2 separate regions of the Homo sapiens genome follow, and region 1 is linked to region 2. Evidence: fine-mapped QTL for protein levels in blood plasma. Region 2 holds a variant in brackets. A gene starts in the other region. All regions are shown on their reverse strands.

Region 1 (8,000 bases), not on the chromosome of region 2:
GCTGGCAGGTCTTGGAAGGATGGCCTTCCGAAGTCAAGACATTGCGTGTCACCCCCACCCCAAGAGCCAGACCCCATTAGTGACTAGGCACGCAAAGGGCAGGGCCCAGGAGGAGCTGTTGGGCTATTGTGTGCTTTGGGTCACCCCATCAAGACAAGATTCCCACTGCCCTGGTGGCTCTGCCCAAAGGGGAAAGCCCCTGCCCTGCCTCCTGGACCCTGCTCTGGGCACAGGTGTTTCACAAGTAACATCATGGACCCCGACAGGAAACTGAACACGAGTGGAGCCCAGTGGTCTCTTGGGAAGCAGGGGCCCAGGCCAGCCCTCACTGTCCTCTCCCAAGGGAGCCCTTAGAGGGTCAGGGACCCTGGGCAATGATCTCCCAGCCTTTCAGGAGCGGCAGCGCTGGAAGGACCCAGGCTATGGGATACCCAGACAGCGTCGGCTGCATCCAGCCCCCAGCGTGGCCCCAGGCACTGGTCAGTGTGCCTCTGGCCTAGACCACAAAGAACCAGGTCACAAAGTGGGCCTTGCCCTCCTGTTGCCCCTGACCACTAGCCCACCTGCCTCTGGCCCCCATCAGCCATTAGTCAAGTTGCCAATGGCCCTACTGGGAAGGGGGCTCGCACCGGAGAAGGTCACAGACATGGGCCTGTGGGCAATGGGGACAGGCCTTTATCATAAGGAAATCCATGGCCTTAGGAGGTAGCCTGAGCCAGTACCTATCTTGTTTCCCACAGAAGGAATAAATATTTACATCCACGGTCAGAAACCACAAGAGCTCCTGAAAATCAGCCAGCTCAGCAGAGGCCATGGGGCAGGAGGGGCCAGCCAATCGGTGACCGTTCCCTTGTGATATTTAACAGAAGCTAGGGTGAGAACCCTGGCCTGGCTGGAACACCCAGACCAGCTTATATCAACTTGGCAGGAAGTAACAGAGTTAATTAACAGGGTTGACAGCAGCTTCTCTGACCTTCTCCTTCCAGATCCACCAAAAATCCCAGACCACTGACTCAGTGGTGAGATACCCCTTGAAAGTCCTGAGAAACTCCCCCCGGGAGAGAAGACACCAGGACAAGTACCTTTTAAGGGAGCACCAGGGCTCAAGTAAGAAGACACGGCCTGTGGCTCCAAAGCCTGAAGACAACTCTGCAAGACAAAAAGAGATGGATGGGGCCGGGCATAGTGGCTCTGGCCTGTAATCCTAACACTTGGGGAGACCGAGGTGGGAGGATCACTTGAGTCCAGGAGTTTGAGACCAGCTGGGGCAACATAACAAGACCCCATGTCTTAAAAAAAAAAAAAAAAAAAAAAAGAGAGAGAGAGAAAGAAAAAAGAACAAAAAGAGATGGATGAAGAGGGAGACAGGAGGCAGGAGGTGGGTGAGGCCAACCAAGAAGGAGAGGGGGAAATCAGAGACAGGGAGAGGAAGGGAGAGGCAGAGAAGAGCAACCTACACAGTTTGGGACAAACTAGTATCTGTCTGTTCAGCTTCACCGAATGAGCAGGTCGTACTGAGACACCAACTCCCTCTTCAGTGAGCACACTTCATCCCCCAAAGCCCCAAGTACAGACTCCCCTGCCCAGCGCAAACCCCAAAGCTGATGTAGTCAGCTATTTGGCACTCCCCTCGCCCCAGGTAGCTCAGAATACCCCACCCAGAGGCTCCCAGAATACCCCCGCTCCTGCAAATGAGCCCACCTGCTGGAAATGGGAGGGTCCCCAGCAGCCCAGGAGAAAGCCACAGGCAAGGATTCCGGCCACACAGAGGGGAGGGCATCTTGCCCGGGGGTGACGCTGGTGCATCCTCAGGAGAGCCAGCCCGAGGAGTGGAGCGGAGTGAGAGGGGGCCTTGGTGACTGGGAATCTGGTCAGTATGGAATGGGACAGGCCTGCTCACTACTGGGCGGGACGATTAGGCAGTGTTTACTCTTGGAAGCTTCCTGCCAGGGCAGGGGCCGTGGCTAGGGTGGGCGGCCTGCAGCTCCTCCTGCTGCAAGCTGGGCCTTGCTCTAAGATGGTTGCAGTTCAGGGTAACCTGCAGCCCAGTCCTGCACACCAGACAGCTCTCCGGATGTGCACGCCCACCCCCTTAGAGGAGGCCTAAGCCATCTAATCTGGAGAAGGGACACTGGACCAGAAACCCACAGACGGGGGTTCACAAGGAATGCCAGGACCTCGGCTGACTCCCTCTCCGGGGTCCCCGCTCCCATCTGACAGATGAGAGGCTGTGCCAAAGACATCGTGGTTCTGGCTCAACTCTCCACCTACTCTGTGCCTGCGCCTGATGAGGAGAGTCGCAGAAGCAGGCTGCACGGCACCAGATCTCAGCATCATCACAAACGGCCTGGCAATCCCCTTCATCTCCTGGAAGACTCACTTCACATGCTCCAAACCACTCTTTTACACCCACAGAGCCGCACAAGCTGATGACCAGCAGGGGGATTCACCTTGTCTTTCCACCCCTCAAAGTGCAGCCTCTCTCCTCCTCTGCGATCAGGGAGGACACACCTACACTTCCTGCCAGGCCCTGGCTCTGGATCCCTTCCCAGCTCTCTCCTCCTGCATCGTTAGTTTCTGCCCCTCTGCTAGAGCCATTCATTCATTCCTTCAGCCAACAAATGTTTCACTGAGCCCCTGAAACAGGCCAGGCTCTGTGCTAGACACCAGGAAAGCAGCCCCAAGCCAGGCAGACAGCAGCCTCGGCCTCTCACAGCTTAAATTCTAGGGAAGAGAGCCAGACAGCAAAGTTGCTAGACAGACACATGTTGTATATGTAGTATGTTCAAAGGTGGTAAGTGTTATGGAGAAAAATACAGCAGAATAAAGGAATGGGGGACTGGAGGGAAGGGTGTGCTTTCATGCAGGAAGGTAAGGAGGCTGTTGGAGAAGGGGGCATGCTTAGATATCGAGATCCTGGTACCTGGCTCACTCCATCAGCATGAATGACTCTCCTGTCTCTTTTTGGTTTTTGTTTGTTTTTTGAGACAGAGTCTTGCTGTGTCACCCAGGCTGGAGTGCAGTGGCACGATCTCGGCTCACTGCAACCTCCGCCACCCAGGTTCAAGTGATTCTCCTGCCTCAGCCTCCCTTGTGGCTGGGATTACAGGCACCCGCCATCACGCCTGGCTAGTTTTTGTATTTTTAGTAGAGGTGGGGTTTCGCCATGTTGGCCAAGCTGGTCTCAAACTCCTGACCTCAGGTGAGCTGACTGCCTCGGCCTCCCAAAGTGCTGGGATTACAGGCATGAGCCACCAAGCCCAGACACTCTGGTGTCTCTTGATTACAATCAACAACCTTCCCTTGACCCACACTGTCCTCCTGCCATAGCCCTGTTTCTGGCTGTCTTTAAGAACTTAGAAACATTATTTTCAGTGGCTATCTCCACTTCCTTGCCTTCAATTCCCACATACCATTGAAATTGATCTTTAAAAGGTCACCAATAACTTTGTGAACCCTGAAAGAGCCAATCCTTCTTGATGGATCCCAAGTTACTAACTGGGCCTAAATTCAAAGTAGGACCTAGCAGCCATTTGCTGACTAGGGTCACACACACATTCTGCGTTCCTGGAAAGCCCCCACTCTCACTTAACTCTGGGATGGTTTCACAGCTATCTGTTCCTGTTTATGCCGCCAGAATCAACCCATCGACTGTGACCTGCATCGACCAATCTGAACTCAGCAAGTATTAACCAATCAGAACTAAGCAAGTGTGCCTTCCTCATTTGCATAAGTGGACCAAAGTGGGAACCTGGGCAGGAAGTTCTCTACAAAAGACGACCTCTTTCTTTGTTCTCTTTGTTCCCTGGAATGCACCTTTGTACAGAAGGCTGCATTGCCCTGGTTTACAAACTGCTGGAACAAAGTTTTTTTCCTTTTTTAAAAAGAAAACCTGGGCCAGGTGTGGTGGCTCACGCCTTTAATCCCAGCACTTTGGGAGGCCGAGGCAGGTGGATCACGAGGCACGCGGATCATGAGGTCAGGAGTTCGAGATCAGCCTGGCCAGCATAGTGAAACCCCGTCTCTTTTCAAAAATACAAAAATTAGGCTAGGTGCGGTGGCTCACGCCTGTAATCCCAACACTTTGGGAGGCTGAGGCGAGAGGATCACCTGATGTCTGGAGATCCATACCAGCCTGGCCAACATGGAGAAACCCCATCTCTACTAAAAGTACAAAATTAGCCGGGCGTGGTGGCACATGCCTGTAATCCCAGCTACTCGGGAGGCTGAGGCAGAAGAATCACTTGAACCCGGGAGGTGGAGGTTGCGGTGAGCCGAGATTGCGCCATTGCACTCCAGCCTGGGCGACAAGAGCATAACTTCGTCTCAAAAAAAAAAAAAAAATTAGCTGGGCATGGTGGCGTGCACCTGTAGTTCCAGCTACCCAGGAGGCTGAGGCAGGAGAATCGCTTGAACCCGGGAGGTGGAGATTGTGGTGAGCCGATATCACGCCACTGCACTCCAGCCTGGGCAGCAGAGCAAGACTCCGTCTCAAAACAAACAAAAAAAAAGAAAACCCTTTTCGGTGGACTTGCTGACAATCTCAGTGCCATATCTGGTTCCCATCTCTCTGTCCTCGTCCTTCTCAGCCTCTCAGCAGCATCTGATGTGGTTTATTCTCCCCCTGGATTCTCTGATGCCACTCACATCCGCTTCTCCTCCCACTGCACTGACTGCTCCCCCTCAGCCTCCTCTGCTGCTTCGCCCCTGGAGAGCCCCCAGCACCTGCTATCTGGTCTTAACCCTTCACTCCCTATATTGGTACTCTCTCTTTGGATGAACTAACCCAGGTTCATGTTTCAACACTAATTATGTGCTGACGATTTCCAAATTACATCTCCAGCACTGACCCTTCCCTAAGCTTAGGAATCTTATATCCTGCTGCTGATTAGACGTCTCTCCTTGGTGACTGACGGCCCGTTCAAACTCAGCAAGTGTGAAAAGGAGCTCATGGCTCCACCCCCATACTTCACCCTGCTCCCCGCAGACATTTATTGAGATGATAAATGGCCACACCCAATTGCTCAGACCAAAATCCTAGGAGCCTCACTTCCCTGTTACTCCATCAACCTCTGCCTGTTACACACGCACATCAAATCTACCCACTCCCGGCCGGGCACGGTGGCTCACACCTGTAATCCCAGCGCTTTGGGAGGCCGAGGCGGATGGATCACTGGAGGTCAGGAGTTCAAGACAGCCTGGCCAACGTGGCGAAACCCCAGGTCTACTAAAAATACAAAAATTGGCAGAGAGTGGTGGCGTGCACCTATAGTCCCAGCTACTCAGGAGGCTGAGGCAGGAGAATCGCTTGAACCCAGGCGGCAGAAGTAAGGGAGGAGACCACCCCTCATATTGTCTTATGCCCAATTTCTGCTTCCAAATAAAGAAGTAAAAACTAAAAGGCAGAAATAAAATCCACAGGCAGACAGCCCGGCGCCGCGCCCTGGGCCTGGTTAAAGATCAATCCTTGACCTAACCGGTTATGTTATCTATAGATTTCAGACATTGTATGGAAAAGCATTGTGAAAATCCCTGTCCTGTTCTGTTGCGTTCTGATTACCGGTGCATGCAGCCCCCAGTCACGTACCCCCTGCTTGCTCAATCGATCACGACCCTCTCACACAGACCCCCTTAGGGTTGTAAGCCCTTAAAAGGGACAGGAATTGCTCACTCAGAGAGCTCGGTTTTTGGAGACGTGAGTCTGCCGATGCTCCCCACTAAATAAAGCCCTTTCCTTCTACAATTCGGTGTCTGAGGGGTTCTTGTCTGCGGCTCGTCCTGCTACAGAGTGAACTGGCAGGAACTCCTCCCGGTGCCTGGGCCTCAGTTTCCCCACTGTACGTGGAAGATGAGCCGCTGTGAGGCTGAGCAAGGAGCAGCCCAAGGCGGGAAAGGCTCGAGAGTCCAGGACGCAGGCGAGCGACCTAGCCCGGCTCTCACTAGCCCCACCGCCCAGTGCCCCCAGCTCAGCTGCCCTACCAGGTGCTACACACACAGCGGCCCCCCAGTTCCCTTCCGGCGTTCGCATCTCTCATCCCCATCCCGGATCTTGGGGAGGTCCTCGGCTTGCCCCAGTCAAACTCGAGGTCGATGACCCCGGATGCCGCTGGCTAAGGCGGCGGCCCAAGTCCCGTGCGGGTGAACCGCCCAGGCTGCGCGGAACCAGAGGCAGGGATCCGGTTTCCAGCCGGTTGTGGAGAGACGAGCGCTTCCGGGGACTGGAGCGTGCGTGCTGAGGTATGCGCAACGCGTGCGGGGTCTCTTCCGGAGTCTTTTCCTGGACGGGGTCCCTGCGGTGGGTGTGTTTCGGCCTGGCCTGGGCAGGCGCTTGTGCTGCCAGGGCGCCGGGCCCGGGGAGGCCGGGGTCTCGGGTGGCCGCCGGCCCAGGCGCTGGACGGCAGCAGGATGGGGAAGGCGAAGGTCCCCGCCTCCAAGCGCGCCCCGAGCAGCCCCGTGGCTAAGCCGGGTCCTGTCAAGACGCTCACTCGGAAGAAAAACAAGAAGAAAAAAAGGTTTTGGAAAAGCAAGGCGCGGGAAGTAAGCAAGAAGCCAGCAAGCGGCCCCGGTGCTGTGGTGCGACCTCCAAAGGCACCAGAAGACTTTTCTCAAAACTGGAAGGCGCTGCAAGAGGTGAGGCTTGAGGGGGCCCGGGCGGAGCGCTGCGCAGCTCATTCCCGCAGAACGCGACGGAGGGAAAGACTTGGGTAGCCCCAAAAGACCTGTAAAGGCAGATTTGAATCGAAATCTTGTAAACAGCTTTTCACAAGAAAGGTGGCCTGTTGAGGGAGGTCTCGAACTTGTTTGCTTGAAAGAAATTGATGAAAGAATTATTTCAAGTACAAAAAAGCAAAGATAAACCCTTGTACCTTTTGCATAATGAACTAACTAGAATGGATTTTACAAAGAGAAATTTAGCTTAAAATCCCGAAACCAGGCCGGGCGCGGGGCCTCACGCCTGTGATCCCAGCACTTTGGGAGGCCGAGGCGGGCAGATCCCCTGAGGTCAAGAGTTCAAGACCAGCCCGGCCAACATGGTGAAACCCCGTGTCTACTAAAAAAGTACAAAAAATATTAGCCGGGCGTGATGGCGCGCGCCGGTAGTCGCAGCTACTCGGGGAGCCTGAGGCAGAAGAATCGCTTGAACCCGGGAGGCAGAGGCAGTAGTAAGCCGAAATCGCGCCACTGCACTCCAGCCTGGGCGACAGAGCGAGACTCCATCTCAAACAACAACAACGAAAGAACACACTGGTCTGTGTAGCAAGACAGGGAGAAAGAAGATTCCTGTGTAGAAGTGAAAAGCAGATAGCAGACATGTGATGGGGTTCTAGCGACACTTACGGTCTTGAAGTAAATACTAATTGAGCTCCTAAAAATGTGCACTCTGCCATGTGCTCTATGCCATGCGTGTTGCAATCCCCACAATAAGACTGTGAGGTGGACACTTCCATCATCGCTATTGTACAGATGAGGAAATAGGCTGGAAAAGTTTAAATAGATCATCTAAGATTGCGGCTGGGAACCAGGTGGCTGACTCTGGAGTCCATGCTTTTAAGGCTGTGTTGTACCTGCTGTCTCCCTAGTGACCTGCACTTCTGTAGAGGTTGCCTGCTCTCTCCTAGACACTCTTCCACGTGCGTCACTCATACATTCTTACCACATCCCTTGGAGCTCCCTTGGAGCTACCTCCTGTTAGGATCATAGCTCACTGCTGCCTGGGCTCCAGTGATTCTCCTGCCTCAGCCTCCCGAGTAGCCCACACGTGTAATCCCAGCACTTTGGGAGGCCCAGGCAGGAGGATCACTTGAGCTCAGGAGTTCAAGTCCAGCCTGGGCAACATGGTGAGATTCCATCTCTAAATAAAAGTAAAAAGTAGTTTTTTTAAAAAAGAAATGTGATCCCCAGTGGTGGAGATGGGGCCCATAGGAGGTATTGGGTCATGGGGGTAGATCCCTCATGAATGACTTGGTGCCCTCCCCTCAGTAACGAGTAAGTTCTCACTC
Region 2 (15,240 bases):
GCACCCATTTCTTGACAAAATCCTCCTGGCCCAGCTATATCCTAGAAGTAAATTACAACAAGTAGAGAGAAAAAATTGGGCTCCCAAACTTCCAGGAAGCTTTGCATGGGGCACAATCCTAGCTGTTATAGAGGTTGAAAGTTAAGTTACATATTTTTCTACCATTCTCTGATTGTGTCTGACATACTGAATATTCATTTATTTTGCCTTTAATTTATCCATAATCGACATGTCTACCATGCATGAGGGCTTAAAGCTCCACTGAAATAAATTACATCCCATGGTATTTAGAAACAGGCAGCCTAACATCTAATCTAATTGACCTAATTAACCCTTTTCTTAAATGCCCATGCTTTACTATATCAGCCAGAGCATACAGTGAACGCTTTTGGCTTTATTGTGGCTGAACAATATTAGAAACTTTAGTCAAATCCAGAACCCAATCTTTAGTTTCAATTTCCTTTCGTACTCCAGCTCAAGCCTGAAATCTTCCTTCTTGTAAACAAAAACCACAAAAGATATTCTATCCCCCATTCCCCAAATGTAGGGGGAAAGTCACAAATGATGTCTGGCTTCAATCCCCTAATGAACTAGCTGAAGGGCCTTGAAAGCAAAAAGACGACGCTTTTATTGAAAGTTCAGGCCTTTTTCTTCAAATGTCCATTAGAATAAAAGGGACTGGTAACTTAGGGATGATCTTATGTGATCATTGTCCACAGTCTTCAATTATAAGCAATGATTCTGTGTGCTCCTTGATGACCAAAGCTGGTGGAGAGTACGGTAATTAACCCAGATGATTCAGAAGCAGCAGAGGATCCAATGCATCACTTCTGGTCATCTTGATACTGCTAGACCTTAGACATTTAGCTTTTATCTCCAATTACATTTTGGCTTAAACAGTTATTCAAATTACCTTCCATCTGTGGGATACAAGCTGGTTGGGTGTAGTGGGTCTACACAATTAGAGCGGGCAACAGATTTAAAGCAGGCAATGTGTGGATGTGCCCTCCCCTGCCGGGCTGCTGAGGAATACACCCCGGGGAGAGGGGCGGCGCATCCACACATTGACAAATGAAAGTTACCCACGTTACCATGTATCATTCTCTTGAAATTACATTTGAGATAAAACAGTAAGATAGTAGCCCATTTCTGACATGGGAATGATAATAACGAATGCCTGTTTCATTGTCTGTTCCGACATGTGCTCCACACTCATCTTCAGTGTCCCTCATTTTAAAGATGAGAAATCCAAGGTCAGGGAGGTTAAGTGATGCCCCCAAGGTCACAAGATCAATCGCTGGCATCTCCACTCTATTGATGCAACAAAAATGGAGGCTGGGCAACATCAAGTGACTTGTCCAGGGACAAGAGCAAAGTGGTGGGGCAAAGACTTCAACCCAGGTAAATTGGACCCAAGTCTAGTCTTATTCCCTCTACACAACAACTGCCTCCCACATGAAGGCTAAAAAGAAAGAGCAGATATTCACTGAGCAACCACATGGTACTAGGAGCCCAGGAATGGAGGAGGGGAAACAGACCCAACCCTCGCCAAGCTTAAAGAGCAAGCAGAGCTTCTGCTCTTCTTCAAGCATCTCTCTCTCATTGCTTAAGGGTAACAAGGAAACAGGGGCATGTAACCAAGCCCTTTGATAAGTACCTGGGCACCTTCTCATGGCTTCTTCTGGTCAAAGACAGCATCAAGTTGCTTTTTGTTGCTACTTTGAGTAGGACCAGGCCCAAAATAGGCCCTCAACAAACATTTTGCATTACGTGAGTTAATTAATCCAGCTTTGAAGCTGAGACAACTGCATGTCACAAGAGCCTAACATTTTCCTAGCTTTTACCTGAGAACATGAGGGGTTTGGCTCTCACATGGCAGTCTATCTCCAATTAACACTGTTGGCTTTTCACAGCCTCCTCAAGAATTCCTATCTCTCTATCTCCAATTAACACTGTTGGCTTTTGCCTCCTCAAGAATTCCTGTCTCAGAGAGCTTGCTGAGCGCTTTCCATGGCTTACATGTGAATCACTTTTCACACTGCAAGGACAGTGACTAAATAGTATCAGACAGGACTTAGGGATTCTGGGACAGAATAAACCACGCCAGAAAGCCGATGACTCAATTCTCCACTTTTCAACTCGTGCTGTCATCCCAGAGAGACAGCCAACGGACCCAGCGCTCTCATCACAATAGAGGCAGGGGGTTCTGAAAATGCAACCAGAAAGATAAAGATCTTAGGAAAGACACTCAAACAGAAAGATCTGCTCAGAGCCAAAGATTGATTCTACCCAAATGCAGGAAAAGAAAAATGGAGAAGTCACCAAATCTATAAATGATTTTCGGAAGAATATTCAATTCAGGAAAACTTATCGTTAGGTGTATTATATTACAAGGCATCTAGTTCAACGGAACTCGGGGTTCAACGACTGGGAAGATCCGAGCAGTGGCAAGTCAATGGGTCTGGAGACCAGGAAGTCAGTGATGGGCTGAGATCCTAACCAGCGATGTGACCTCAGGTCAGAACCACCCCCTGTTGCTGGGTCTTGATATCCTCATCTATAAATAAGGGGGGATTTAGTCTATATAAGATTCCTTCCGGCTGCAAAATTCACTACTTCTGCACCTCCCAGTCCACTCCCTTCTACCGCTGTGAAGTTCACCAAAATTCCACTGGCACCGTGCTCCAGCCCTGAACAGGCTGGCTTTTGTGGACTTCCCTCAGTGCATGGTAACCACAGAAATAAACCCAAATACACCAAAAAATGTAAAGGGGTCGTGAGTGCTGTTGTACTTATGAAGTCAGCAGTGTGAAATGTATAACAAGATTGTCTACAGATCTTTTGTTGACACGTGGTAAGAAAAATCTCCTCTTCAGTATAAAAAGGCCCATTTGTTTGGTTCTCAACCAGATCGGTCTTGAGTCAGCGGCATTTGAAACTGGAGCCCCAGTCATAACTGTGGGCTGCCCTTACCCGACACACACATAGGAGGAAAATTTGGATTTTTCACAGATATCCTCTATTCTGCCATGGGAGCCTAGGAAAGCAGGGGAAGTTGCCCTTGGCATTGACCAGACAATGAACTCATCATCCTGCTTCACCCAGAAATAGAAATGAAGTGTTAAACGTAGCTCACTAGTGTCTGCCTCAGCATTACAGACTGAAGTTAAGTTGCCTAAGAAAGTACAGAGTGGGAATGCTTACTTAATCCATGATAATGTAGCCTACCACCCCGATAATCCCACCACCCCACTGTCATCTGAAAGCACTTATTAAGCACCTAGTGTGTACACAGCCCTTCTTTCCTGGAGTGTTCCAAAAAGAGCTCTCAAGTTTGGGCTGCATGAACACAACGTGAATGTACTTCATGCCACTGAACTGTACACTAAAAATGGTTAAAATGGTAAATTTTATGTTATGTGTATTTTACCATTTTCTTAAATACCAAAAAAAAAAAAAAAAAAAAAAAAAAAATGAAGGGCTGCAGCCCTCAGATACACGAATCATACCGGTGCAAAACAGAAACACTCTGTCAGGCAGATATTTCCAGCACGTCCCCAAAGTGTCTGGGGCTGCTGATAATAACCTTTGCCCTGGCCCTGAGTGACCATGGTCTTTTGTTGAAGCACCCCACCTGGAGCCTTAGACTGAACCCACAGTCATTTCCACCCCTCTGGAGT[CTTAGTA/A]CCGAGGTCCAGGGATTCTCCAATATGAATGTTCCTGGCACCCTCACCCCTGCAATGCCACCACCCTGAATGTCTTCCTCAGAGCACTGTCCCCACCCGACATGGCCTCATCCCTGTCCCCAGTTCCTCCTCCATCCCTTAATGGCAACATGAATGTTGGAGGAACGTGAATGTCCCTCAGCGCAGCCTGGAGTGGTGTCAATGCAGATTCCTAGGCCCCCAAAATCCAGATCCGGATTCAATAGGCCTATCTCGAGGCCCAGAAATCTGCCCTTTTAAACACATTCCAGGTGATTTTTAAGGATTTGGGAATGATTTAAAGGCCCTGGCTAAATGGAAGTGGGTGGTTGACCAAATGCAGCCTTCTCCTGGGCTTTGGAAATGACCAGAGACTGCAGCCATGGGAGGTGCTCCCAGCTCTTGCTCTCCAGTTCAGAGCTCTTCTCTGAAGAACTTCTCTGAAGAGTCCGTTGCTCTTTTCCAAGTTCTGTGAGGCCCCTGACCAAGTCCTTGAACAAGTAACAGGCTCATATATATGGTTCTGCCACCTTTCCCTTTCTAGTGGACGGTCACCCGGAACCAGAACTCCCAGATTCCAGGCCCAGCCCTCCACCACACATTTTGCATCACTGCACCTCAGTCTTCCCCTCTGCAAAATGGGCCTGCTAATACCTGCCCTGGCTTCCGCTAGGCCCACTGTGTCAGGGATTCCAGCCCCTGTTCTTCCAAGCGTGTGACCTTGGGCTCCTTAGGTTTCACCTCTCTGGGTCTCAGCTTCCACATCTTGAAAGCAGGAATAAACACAGTACTTAGTTCATAGAGTTCCTGGGAGGACACAGTAGGCTAAGGCAAGAAAAGCTCTCCTGCCACTGAGAAGCACAGTGAATACTTAACGTGAACCACCATCACGCCTGTGAGTAAGTTGACATGGATATACTGTACTTGGGAGGGAACAGGCATAAGAGAGAACAGTTCTCACACTTCTATTTTAGAGACCAAAGCTCATGCACACATGCCACCCACCCACCCGAGGGCCATGGTTTGTAATCACAGGGTGGGTGGCATTCGTGCATGAGCTTTGGTTTCTAACAATAGAAGACAAGAATGAATTTTGAAGAAGCTAACCCTTTTATTTACAATGTTGAGTTCCTCTACTCCCCAGGCAGAGACCAAGGAATACCCCGATAAGCAATTTCTGAGCACTGCCGAAGTAGGAAAGGGCAGGACGGGCCCTTCTGACGAAGCAGTGGCCTCCAAACCTGTTGCCTGCAGAACAGCCTCCTTCAGAAGAGGACCACTCTGTGGCTCGGCATCCTTTACCCTGACAGCTGGCTCATGCAGGCCAGGCTGCAACCTGCACTCCACCCAACCCCACAGAACAGCACCTGCTGGCCACTCAGCAGCTCACTCAGAACACACCCAGGAAACTTCCTTCAAACGGACAGATGTTCCTGCTCCCAGGCCTTTCTTTGCCTATCAGTTGTCTAAGTTAAGACCCCCTTCACCCGGATTATCACAGAGGACTCGCAGAGGCCTTCCTGGCACCCTCATCCCTGCAATGCCACTACCTTTCATGTCTTCCTCAGAGCACTGTCCCCACCTGACATGGCCTCATCCCTGTCCCCAGTTCCTCCTGCATCCCTTAATGGCAAGCTCCTGGGGCCTTTTCTGTTCATAGCAAGAACACTGTCTGGCACACAGCAGACACTCAGAAAATACTTGTTTACTGGATTGTGTATCCTGTTTAGGGCAAACACAAAGCCCCGTCACCCTGGGATCATCCCAGTTTATGCCTGTGGGCCTGTGGTCCTACACTCTTTTTTTTTTTTTGAGACAGGATCTCACTCTGTAACTCAGGCTGGGGTGCAGTGGCACAGTCTCGGCTCACTGCAACCTCTGCCTCCTGGGTTCAAGTAATTCTTGTGCCTCAGCCTCCTGAGTAGCTGGAATTGCAGGTGCATGCCACCACGCCGGCTCATTTCTTTGTATTTTCAGTAAAGATGGGGTTTCATCATGTTGGCCAGGCTGGTCTTGAACTAGTGAACTCAAATGATTCACCTGCCTTGGCCTCCCAAAGACCTGGGATTACAGGCATGAGTCACCACGCCCGGCCTCTACAGTCATTTTTAATAGTTCCTTTTTCTTTCTTTTTTTCTTTTTTTTTAATTATACTTTAAGTTTTAGGGTACATGTGCACAATGTACAGGTTTGTTACATAGGCATACATGTGCCATGTTGGTGTGCTGCACCCATTAACTCGTCATTTACATTAGGTATATCTCCTAATGCTATCCCTCCCCCAACCCCCACCCCACAACAGACCCCAGTGTGTGATGTTCCCCTTCCTGTGTTCAAGTGTTCTCATTGTTCAATTCCCACCTATGAGTGAGAACATGCGGTGTTTGGTTTTTTGTCCTTGCGATAGTTTGCTGAGAATGATGGTTTCCAGCTTCATCCATGTCCCTACAAAGGACATGAACTCATCATTTTTTATGGCTGCATAGTATTCCATGGTGTATATGTGCCACATTTTCTTAATCCAGTCTATCATTGTTGGACATTTGGGTTGGCTCCAAGTCTTTCCTATTGCGAATAGTGCCACAATTAACATGTGTGCATGTGTCTTTATAGCAGCATGATTTATAATCCTTTGGGTATATACCCAGTAATGGGATGGCTGGGTCAAATGGTATTTCTAGTTCTAGATCCCTGAGGAATCGCCACACTGACTTCCACAATGGTTGAACTAGTTTACACTCCCACCAACAGTGTAAAAGTGTTCCTATTTCTCCACATCCTCTCCAGCACCTGTTGTTTCCGGACTTTTTAATGATTGCCATTCTAACTGGTGTGAGATGGTATCTCACTGTGGTTTTGATTTGCATTTCTCTGATGGCCAGTGATGATGAGCATTTTTTCATGTGTCTTTTGGCTGCATAAATGTCTTCTTTTGAGAAGTGTCTGTTCATATCCTTCGCCCACTTGTTGACGGGGTTGTTTGTTTTTTTCTTGTAAATTCGTTTGAGTTCATTGTAGATTCTGGATATTAGCCCTCTGTCAGATGAGTAGATTGCAAAAATTTTCTCCCATTCTGTAGGTTGCCTGTTCACTCTGATAGTAGTTTCTTTTGCTGTGCAGAAGGTCTTTAGTTTCATTAGATTCCATTTGTCAATTTTGGCTTCTGTTCCCATTGCTTTTGGTGTTTTAGACATGAAGTCTTTGCCTGTGCCTATGTCCTAAATGGTATTGCCTAGGTTTTCTTCTAGGGTTTTTATGGTTTTAGGTCTAACATTTAAGTCTTTAATCCATCTTGAATTAATTTTTGTATAAGGTGTAAGGAAGGGATCCAGTTTTAGCTTTCTACATGTGGCTAGCCAGTTTTCCCAGCACCATTTATTAAATAGGGAATCATTTCCTCATTTCTTGCTTTTGTCAGGTTTGTCAAAGATCAGATAGTTGTAGATGTATGGCATTATTTCTGAGGGCTCTGTTCTGTTCCATTGGTCTATATCTCTGTTTTGGTACCAGCACCATGCTGTTTTGGTTACTGTAGCCTTGTAGTATAGTTTGAAGTCAGGTAGCGTGATGCCTCCAGCTTTGTTCTTTTGGCTTAGGATTGACTTGGCAATGCGGGCTCTTTTTTGGTTCCATATGAACTTTAAAGTAGTTTTTTCCAATTCTGTGAAGAAAGTCATTGGTAGCTTGATGGGGATGGCACTGAATCTATAACTTACCTTGGGCAGTATGGCCATTTTCACGATATTGATTCTTCCTATCCATGAGCATGGAATGTTCTTCCATTTGTTTGTATCCTCTTTTATTTCATTGAGCAGCGGTTTGTAGTTCTCCTTGAAGAGGTCCTTCACATCCTTGTAAGTTGGATTCCTAGGTATTTTATTCTCTTTGAAGCAATTGTGAATGGGAGTTCACTCATGATTTGGCTCTCTGTCTGTTATTGGTGTATAAGAATGCTTGTGATTTTTGCACATTGATTTTGTATCCTGAGACTTTGCTGAAGTTGCCTATCAGCTTAAGGAGATTTTGGGCTGAGACGATGGGGTTTTCTAGATATACAATCATGTCATCTGCAAACAGGGACAATTTGACTTCCTCTTTTCCTAATTGAATACCCTTTATTTCCTTCTCCTGCCTGATTGCCCTGGCCAGAACTTCCAACACTATGTTGAATAGCAATAAAGATCTAAAACTGACACCCTAACATCACAATTAAAAAGTAGAGAAGCAAGAGCAAACACATTCAAAAGCTAGCAGAAGGCAAGAAATACCTAAGATCAGAGCAGAACTGAAGGAGACAGAGACACAAAAAAACCTTCAAAAGATCAATGAATCCAGGAGCTAGTTTTTTTAAAAAGATCAACAAAATTGATAGACTGCTACCAAGACTAATAAAGAAGAAAAGAGAGAAGAATCAAATAGATGCAATAAAAAATGATAAAGGGGATATCACCACCGATCCCACAGAAATACACACTATCATCAGAGAATACTATAAACACCTCTATGCAAGTAAACTAGAAATTCTAGAAGAAATGGATAAATTCCTTGACACATACACCTTCCCAAGACTAAACCAGGAAGAAGTTGAATCTCTGAATAGACCAATAACAGGCTCTGAAATTGAGGCAATACTTAATAGCTTACCAACCAAAAAAAGTCCAGGACCAGACGGATTCACAGCCGAATTCTACCAGAGGTACAAGGAGGAGCTGGTACCATTCCTTCTGAAACTATTCCAATCAATAGAAAAAGAGGGAATCCTCCCTAACTCATTTTATGAGGCCAGCATCATCCTGATACCAAAGCCTGGCAGAGACACAACAAAAAAAGAGAATTTTAGACCAATATCCCTGATGAACATCGATGCAAAAATCCTCAATAAAATACTGGCAAACCGAATCCAGCAGCACATCAAAAAGCTTATCCACCATGATCAAGTGGGCTTCATCCCTGGGATGCAAGGCTGGTTCAACATATGCAAATCAATAAACATAATCCAGCATATAAACAGAACCAACGACAAAAACCACATGATTATCTGAATAGATGCAGAAAAGGCCTTTGACAAAATTCAACAACCCTTCATGCTAAAAACTCTCAATAAACTAGGTATTGATGGGACGTATCTCAAAATAATAAGAGCTATCTATGACAAACCCACAGCCAATATCATACTGAATGATCAAAAACTGGAAGCAGTCCCTTTGAAAACCGGCACAAGACAGGGATGCCCTCTGTCACCACTCCTAATAGCTCCTTTTTCTAGTCTAACCAGTGGCTGGATTTGATAATACATCTTGCACTGTTTTGATGAGAGGTGATACGGTCCAGGGGTTAGGAGCCAGAAAGGTCTGGAGTCAGACAAACTTCATCATCAGACCTGAGCTGCCACTTCCTCTTGTGTGGTGATCCTCACAAGCCATGACCCTCTCTGATCAAAGTGTCCACAGCACTTCAGGAGACTGAAAGCCTGTGTCTACAAGCACTGACAAGTGGGACGCTGGAGGCGTTCAGTCAACATTGTTCTTAATAATATTGTCTGTCGCCGGGTGCAGGACTCAGACCTGTAATCCCAGCACTTTGGGAGGCCGAAGCGGGCGGATCACCTGAGGTCAGGAGATCAAGACCAGCCTGACCAACAGGGGGAAACCCCATCTCTACTAAAAATACAAAATTAGCCAGGCATGGTGGCACATGCCAGTAATCCCGGCTACTTGGGAGGCTGAAGTGGGAGAATCGCTTGAACCCAGGAGGCAGAGGTTGCAGTAAGCTGAGATCGGGCCATTGCACTCCAGCCTGGGCAATAAGAGCAAAACTCCATCTCAAAAAAAAAAAAAAAATTGTCTGTCCTCCAAAGACAAACTACTGAGTCCACCACCTGCTAGCTATGTGACCTCAGCTGATTAACTTATCCTCTCTGCCATTTTCTCATCTCCAAGATGAAAACAAGAATTCCTACGTTCCAGGCTGGTTTTGAGAATTATTAGATGATATCATTCAGGAAAAGCACAGTGCGCTGGGTGAGGTGGCTCACGCCTGTAATTCCAGCACTTTGGGAGGCCAAGGTGGGTGGATCACCAGCAGTCAGGAGTTCGAGACCAGCCTGGTCAACATGGCGAAACTCCGTCTCTACTAAAAATACAAAAAATAGCCGGGTGTGGTGACAGGCGCCTGTAATCCCAGCTACTCAGGAGGCTGAGGCAGGAGATTCACTTGCACTTGGGAGGGAGAGACTGCAGTGAGCAGAGATCACGCCACTGCACTCTAGCCTGGGTGACAGAGCGAGACTCAGTCTCAAAAAAAAAAAAAAAGTGCAGTGGCTTACATATACTGAAACTGAATAAATGGTAGCAATTGTTAATACTGTTGCTATTCCTTCTAAATTCCCGAGTTGCTTGAAGGCAAGAATCTTGTGTATCCACTTCTGTATCCCTAATACTAAATGCCTGGCACATTTTCTTGCAGGAAGGAAAGGAGTAGGCTTCTTCCTGAGGTCCTGCCATGCTCATCCCCAGTGAGCTTGGTTCCTGATTTCAGAGAGAGGCATAGATGGGACACCAAGAAGGCACGTGGCTTGGGTGGGCTGCACAGTGCTGAAAGGTGGAAAGAGGATCTGCTGGAGTGTGGAAGGTTTACAGACGGTAAAATCTGCAGCTGCTCACACACCTACTAGTGGGAGGGGGAGGCTTGCGAAATGTTAAAAATGAGTCGATTTTCTCATATACAACAAGAACAACAACGAAGACAGTGAGGAAAAGAGGAATAAACAAGGTGTGGGTGGAGAAAAACAGGTACCTGAGCCTGGCTCTTGTGAAACAGAACCCTTTAGGAGTAGAGGTGGGGTGGGGAGGGCAGTCACTGGTTTAATACAGATCCTCCCAAATAGGCTGGATCACAGCCGAGCTTACAGATGCTCACTTTGGACTCCTCTGACACCACCAGAGAGATCAAACCCCAGGATATGTTGGTTTTGTAGGTTGTCAGACACGTCAAGACCACTAACTGTTTCTATCAGAATGTAGAAATGTTGCAGACCGTGGAGGGGGCTGTTCAGATGGCCCAGCACTCTGACCGCATGCAAAGGAAGTTCCTTTCGCAACCCGTCCTCTTCCTCCAACTGTAAAGTAAGATTATGAAGCAGAATCAAGAGCCTACACTGAACCTCAAAAGGGAAAGCCCAGGGTTGGGGACTCCCAGTGCAGCATGGTCAATGGTGCCACCCCAATACCACCTGCACCAACATCACCTTCAATAGCAGGACTTATTCCCCTGTGGCTCCATAAACTGGGCAGATCAATGGAGAAGGTGCAGCCTGAAAACCCTGGAGGCATCCCCTAGAATCTGGGCCCCAAATTCCTAGCTTGGAATCTCCCCCACTTCATTATGTTCTTACCCCAGGCATAACAGTTCTGCTGCTGATCAATCCAATAGGTCTGCTGTACCTAAGAGCTATGATGCACTCAGCCACAGAGCTCTGTGTGATGAAGATGCAAAATGGACTCAGACATCCTCTGAGCTCTTCCCCTAAGTTTTGAAGGTAACTGCTCAGGACAGAAAACTGAGATTGTAAGAGACACTGGTCTCGAAGTGAACTGTCCACAAATCCTGAGGATCGTTCCTTTGAACAAATGTATCTGGTTGTTTTTGTTGTGTGCATTTTTTTATTCAGAATATAAAATATTCTGAAAAGCTATGGAGTCTCACAAACTGAGCTCTAGTAACTAAGACGGTAACTCCAGGAGGGTTCTCTATTCCTAGAATTTCTTCCGTCAGAATAACCAAGTTGAGAGGTTTGTCAAATTTTGTTTCATAAGCTAGTAGTTTCACTTTTATTTAGAATCTAGAGCCAGACAATTGGGTTCCAGTCCTGTCACATCCTGGCTCTGTGACCGTGGATACTAACCCTCTCCATGCCTCAGTTTTCTCCTCTGCAAAATGGGGATGAAAATAATAATACTTACCTCTCAGGAGTGTTGTGGGGATTAATGAGCTAATACATGAGAGCAACTAGAAGAGTACCTGGCATACTCTTAGGTACTTTATTCAGTCAGTATTTAATAAATGTCGCTACATACATAGACTGTCTTAAAGAGCTAATGACCTACTTTTATTTTTAAAGATCTCCAATGGTAGGTTTCAACTTTTAGTTTAGAAATACAGAGGCAGTATAAAATAGTGGTTAAGAACATGAACTATAAAGCCATATTGCCTGGGATTGGATCCCAGCTCTGCCCCTTTTTCACTGTGTTAATTTGGTCAAGTTACTTAACCTCTCTGAGCTTTAGTTTCCTTATCTGTAAAATGGAGATAATACTGCCTGCAGGTTTAAGTGAGTTGATAAATACAAGCCACATTATAGATAATAGTAGAGATGACAGGTGCCGCTGTCATTGTATCTCTAGGGGAGGTCCCATCAGCAGCTCCCATGATCACATTTGTAAAATGCCAAGATGCCATTCAAAGTCCCAGGAAGCAACTAGGCAGCCAGCCATTCTCTTCCCATCTCAGCTCTGTTGGAAGTTGCTGACCTACAGCTCATCAGTAAATGTGTACCAAGCAGAAATCAATTAAAATCAGCCACACTTGCTGCTGCAGTCTCCTCTGTTCCCATCCCATGGCAGGGCTGAGGGCTAAGGAGGCAGACAGAGGAGCTGTTGCAAGGACAGTGGGAGGGGGGCCACTGGCACAGTACCTCTTGCTGCTCCATGGCAACGGTAGCTGCTAGACAGCAGAGCAGCAACAACACACTGCAGCAAGAGAGGAAAGTCTGACTCCTCTCGCCAGGCAAAGCACCAGGCCATTCACAAGGCCAGAAGACAGGAAGACCCCGGCCCTAAACAGCAGCCCTGATCATGGGACCCAGCCCAACCTCTGACTCCTGGCATAGAAAAACAACACACATACGAGTCCTTCCTCCAGGCTCACCTGCCCTGGGAAGCCACAAATCCACAGACAAACTTGGTATCTCTGTCTTAGTCTACTCCTGCTGCTATAACAAAATATCCTAGACTAAGGAATTTATCAATGTATTGCTCACAGTTCTGGAGGCTGGGAAGTCCAAGATCAAAGCAATAGCAGATTCGGTGTCTGGCAAGGCACCAAACAGTGATGCCTTCTGTGTCTTCACATGGCAGAGGGGTGAAGAGGCTCCCTCAGGCCTCTTTTATAAGGGCACTAATTCCATTCATGAAGGCAGAGCCCTCAAGACCTAATCACCTCCCAATACTATTGCATTAGGGATTAGGTTTCAACACTTGAATTTGTGGGGGGTACACAAACATTCAGACCATGGCAACCTCTAAACTTTGCACACAGCTCATGGGCTGTGTGACCCTGGATCCTTGCTCAACATTGTCAGGTACACAGGAAAAAATTCACAGGAGAGCTCATGCTAGGTGGAGCTGTGAGGCTCTCACTGGGGACAGAATTAAGTGTTTCAACAGGAATGGAACTAGAGGTACTTTGGGCAGGCAGCAGAGGGGAAGATTCCTGGAGAAGGGAGCTGGATCTTAAAGGACAAAAGGAAATAAAGGAAGAGGCAGGGAGAGAGGGACAGACATAAGCCTCATAAAACATCCACCCAGGGAACACCTTTCTACCCAAAAAGAAACTAATCATTTCAAACAAATGTTTCTCTACCCTCTAGGAAAGGATTGCATTTTCTGCCAGATCTGATTGAAGCAGGCAGATATTTTGTAACTGCACCTCCTTGCCTAGCAAAAAATGTTCCAACTTGTCAGTCATCCTCCATCTCAGGTGCATTCTGCCTGCTCCAGGTGATGTGGCCCATCTGACACATGCAGCTCATTTTCCCAAATATTCCTGCAGCTCAAACTGGCAAGCGTAAGGGATACACTACTTTGTCAGTGTGATAGTGTACTCCATTCTTTAGAGACAGCAACAAGTTTTGCAAATTGGTCCTGATAAAGAACCTCAGATTTAAATGTATTGGGCGGGAGGTGTTCCATCAGGAACAATTTGCAAAACTTGCCAACATAAAATTTACATATACATGTGTGTGTATATATATTTATATTCATTCACCTTACAAGAAGACTGCCTTACACTAGATACTTAAGTCTCTGGGTCTCAATTTCTATAACTATAAAAGTATATATTTTCTCAGGCTCAGGCACTATGGGGAAAAGATTCTAAGGTTCCATTCAGGTTCAGCACAGAGAAAGGTGCTGGGATCCATTAGTGATGTCTGCCGTACTCACACTAGGGGAACATGGGAGGTGTATGTACCTGTAGGTGTTTGTAATTTCCCGAACAGAGGGTAATTTCGACTTTCTAAAGACCTATTCTTTCAAACATTCTGAGCATTGAGTTATAAAGGCCACACTCATGGGTTCAAAGGAGTCCCTCTGCTGCAAAGAGAGGAAAAAGGCTGTCTGTGTTGAGAAGATCCCTCCAGAACCCACCCTCACAATCCCTGAGAGCACACCCCACAGGTCCTCAGGTGAAAGTCACAAAGTTGCTCCTCTGCCAGGACCTGTGGGGATGGAGGACTATCTCCCAGCATGAGAAACCAAGCGTTTTTGTTCAGCTGTTGAGTCACAGTAACTCCTGTGTGAGTCTAAAATTATTTCCATTATGAGTGGCTTTCATTTTGTAGGCAGACCGCCCCCCCACCCCAACCGCTAGATGCAATTTAGAAGAAAGAGCAGAGAAAGGAGAATTTCACACAAGTGACAATAAGGACTGGAATAGACTTTGAGATAGGGCTTAGGGGAAAGAACAGAGAAAGAAGTAATTTATGGGGGACCATAAAGCCTCAAAACCTCTCAGTGAAGAATATTCTAGATTCCCATTAGAGCAGTGACACTGAGGCACAGAGTCATCAGGTTAACTCTCATGAACATCACACGGCCAGAGAATGGCTTCCAAGCCCTTGTTTTTTGCATGCCACAGTCATGCTGCCTGGACATACTCCAGAAGGCTGAGTGTGTCCAGAGAATCTAGAACATTCACAGGCCTAGGAATGGAGGCAAAAGGGGAAGCACAAAGGAGTGAGAATGTGGCTGCCACACAGACCATCCCTGCTCTCCCAAGAAACGTGGTAAGCACACGCCTGCAGGTTCTGTCCCAACTTCTCAGCAACCATAGCCATTTCCCTGTGGCAAACACAGGGAGAAAGTGGTACACAGTGTTCCTTTCTCTCTAAGAGGTGAGCCAGAAGTCTGCCCAATTTCAAGGGCCTGCTGAGAAGAACAACAGAGCACCCTAATTAGCCCAGGTTTCCTAACAACTATGCTGGCGATGCCGGAGCCGCACAAATCCCCTGGGTCTCCTCATCCTGGAGCATTTGTTCTGTCTCTTACTCCCTGCCCCGCTGCCTGAAGACTCCTCAAATACTGGTGATAGAGCGTCTTAGTGCTGGGGGCCTCCTGAGCCATGGGTTAATACTCAGGTAGACAATTTACAAAAGTCCTAGAGGCCAGGCACAGTGGTTTATGCCTGTAATCCCAGCACTTTGGGAGGCCGAGGCAGGTGGATCACTTGAGGTCAGGAGTTCGAGACCAGCCTGGCCAAC

Alleles and levels. Alleles are on the strand shown, and positions count from the first base shown. The strength of an association depends on the size of the effect and on how common the allele is.
With allele A in place of CTTAGTA in region 2, the plasma level of the protein whose gene starts at base 1,883 in region 1 is lower (weak association).

Evidence for each region. A credible set is the group of variants that fine-mapping cannot tell apart. PIP is the posterior inclusion probability: the model's chance that the variant is causal. Protein levels are from antibody-based Olink assays in UK Biobank. Linkage for the fine-mapping came from a reference panel and not from the study's own genotypes, which makes the PIPs less certain.
Region 1: ADAMTS13 starts here. The variant in region 2 is the best candidate, but not a certain one, in a credible set for the plasma level of the ADAMTS13 protein (UK Biobank, PIP 0.59).

The regions. Positions count from the first base shown.
Region 1 is chr9:133,416,250-133,424,249 of GRCh38, reverse strand. It overlaps ADAMTS13 (ADAM metallopeptidase with thrombospondin type 1 motif 13), which reads right to left and starts at 1,883. Exons shown (of 29, transcript NM_139027.6): 1 at 1,702-1,883; 2 at 1,083-1,149. The coding sequence starts at 1,806. REXO4 (REX4 homolog, 3'-5' exonuclease) reads left to right here and starts at 6,240. Exons shown (of 8, transcript NM_020385.4): 1 at 6,240-6,630. The coding sequence starts at 6,406. RefSeq lists enhancers at 2,129-2,188, 2,309-2,358, 2,589-2,728, 5,926-6,145 and a silencer at 6,256-6,495.
Region 2 is chr12:104,565,469-104,580,708 of GRCh38, reverse strand. The region is part of intron 1 of CHST11 (carbohydrate sulfotransferase 11); the gene reads right to left. Among named protein-coding and RNA genes, the nearest start is that of MIR3922, 19 kb to the left of the region's middle. RefSeq lists enhancers at 485-594, 10,650-10,739, 14,483-14,542. The variant CTTAGTA/A (reference allele first, on the strand shown) is at 3,681.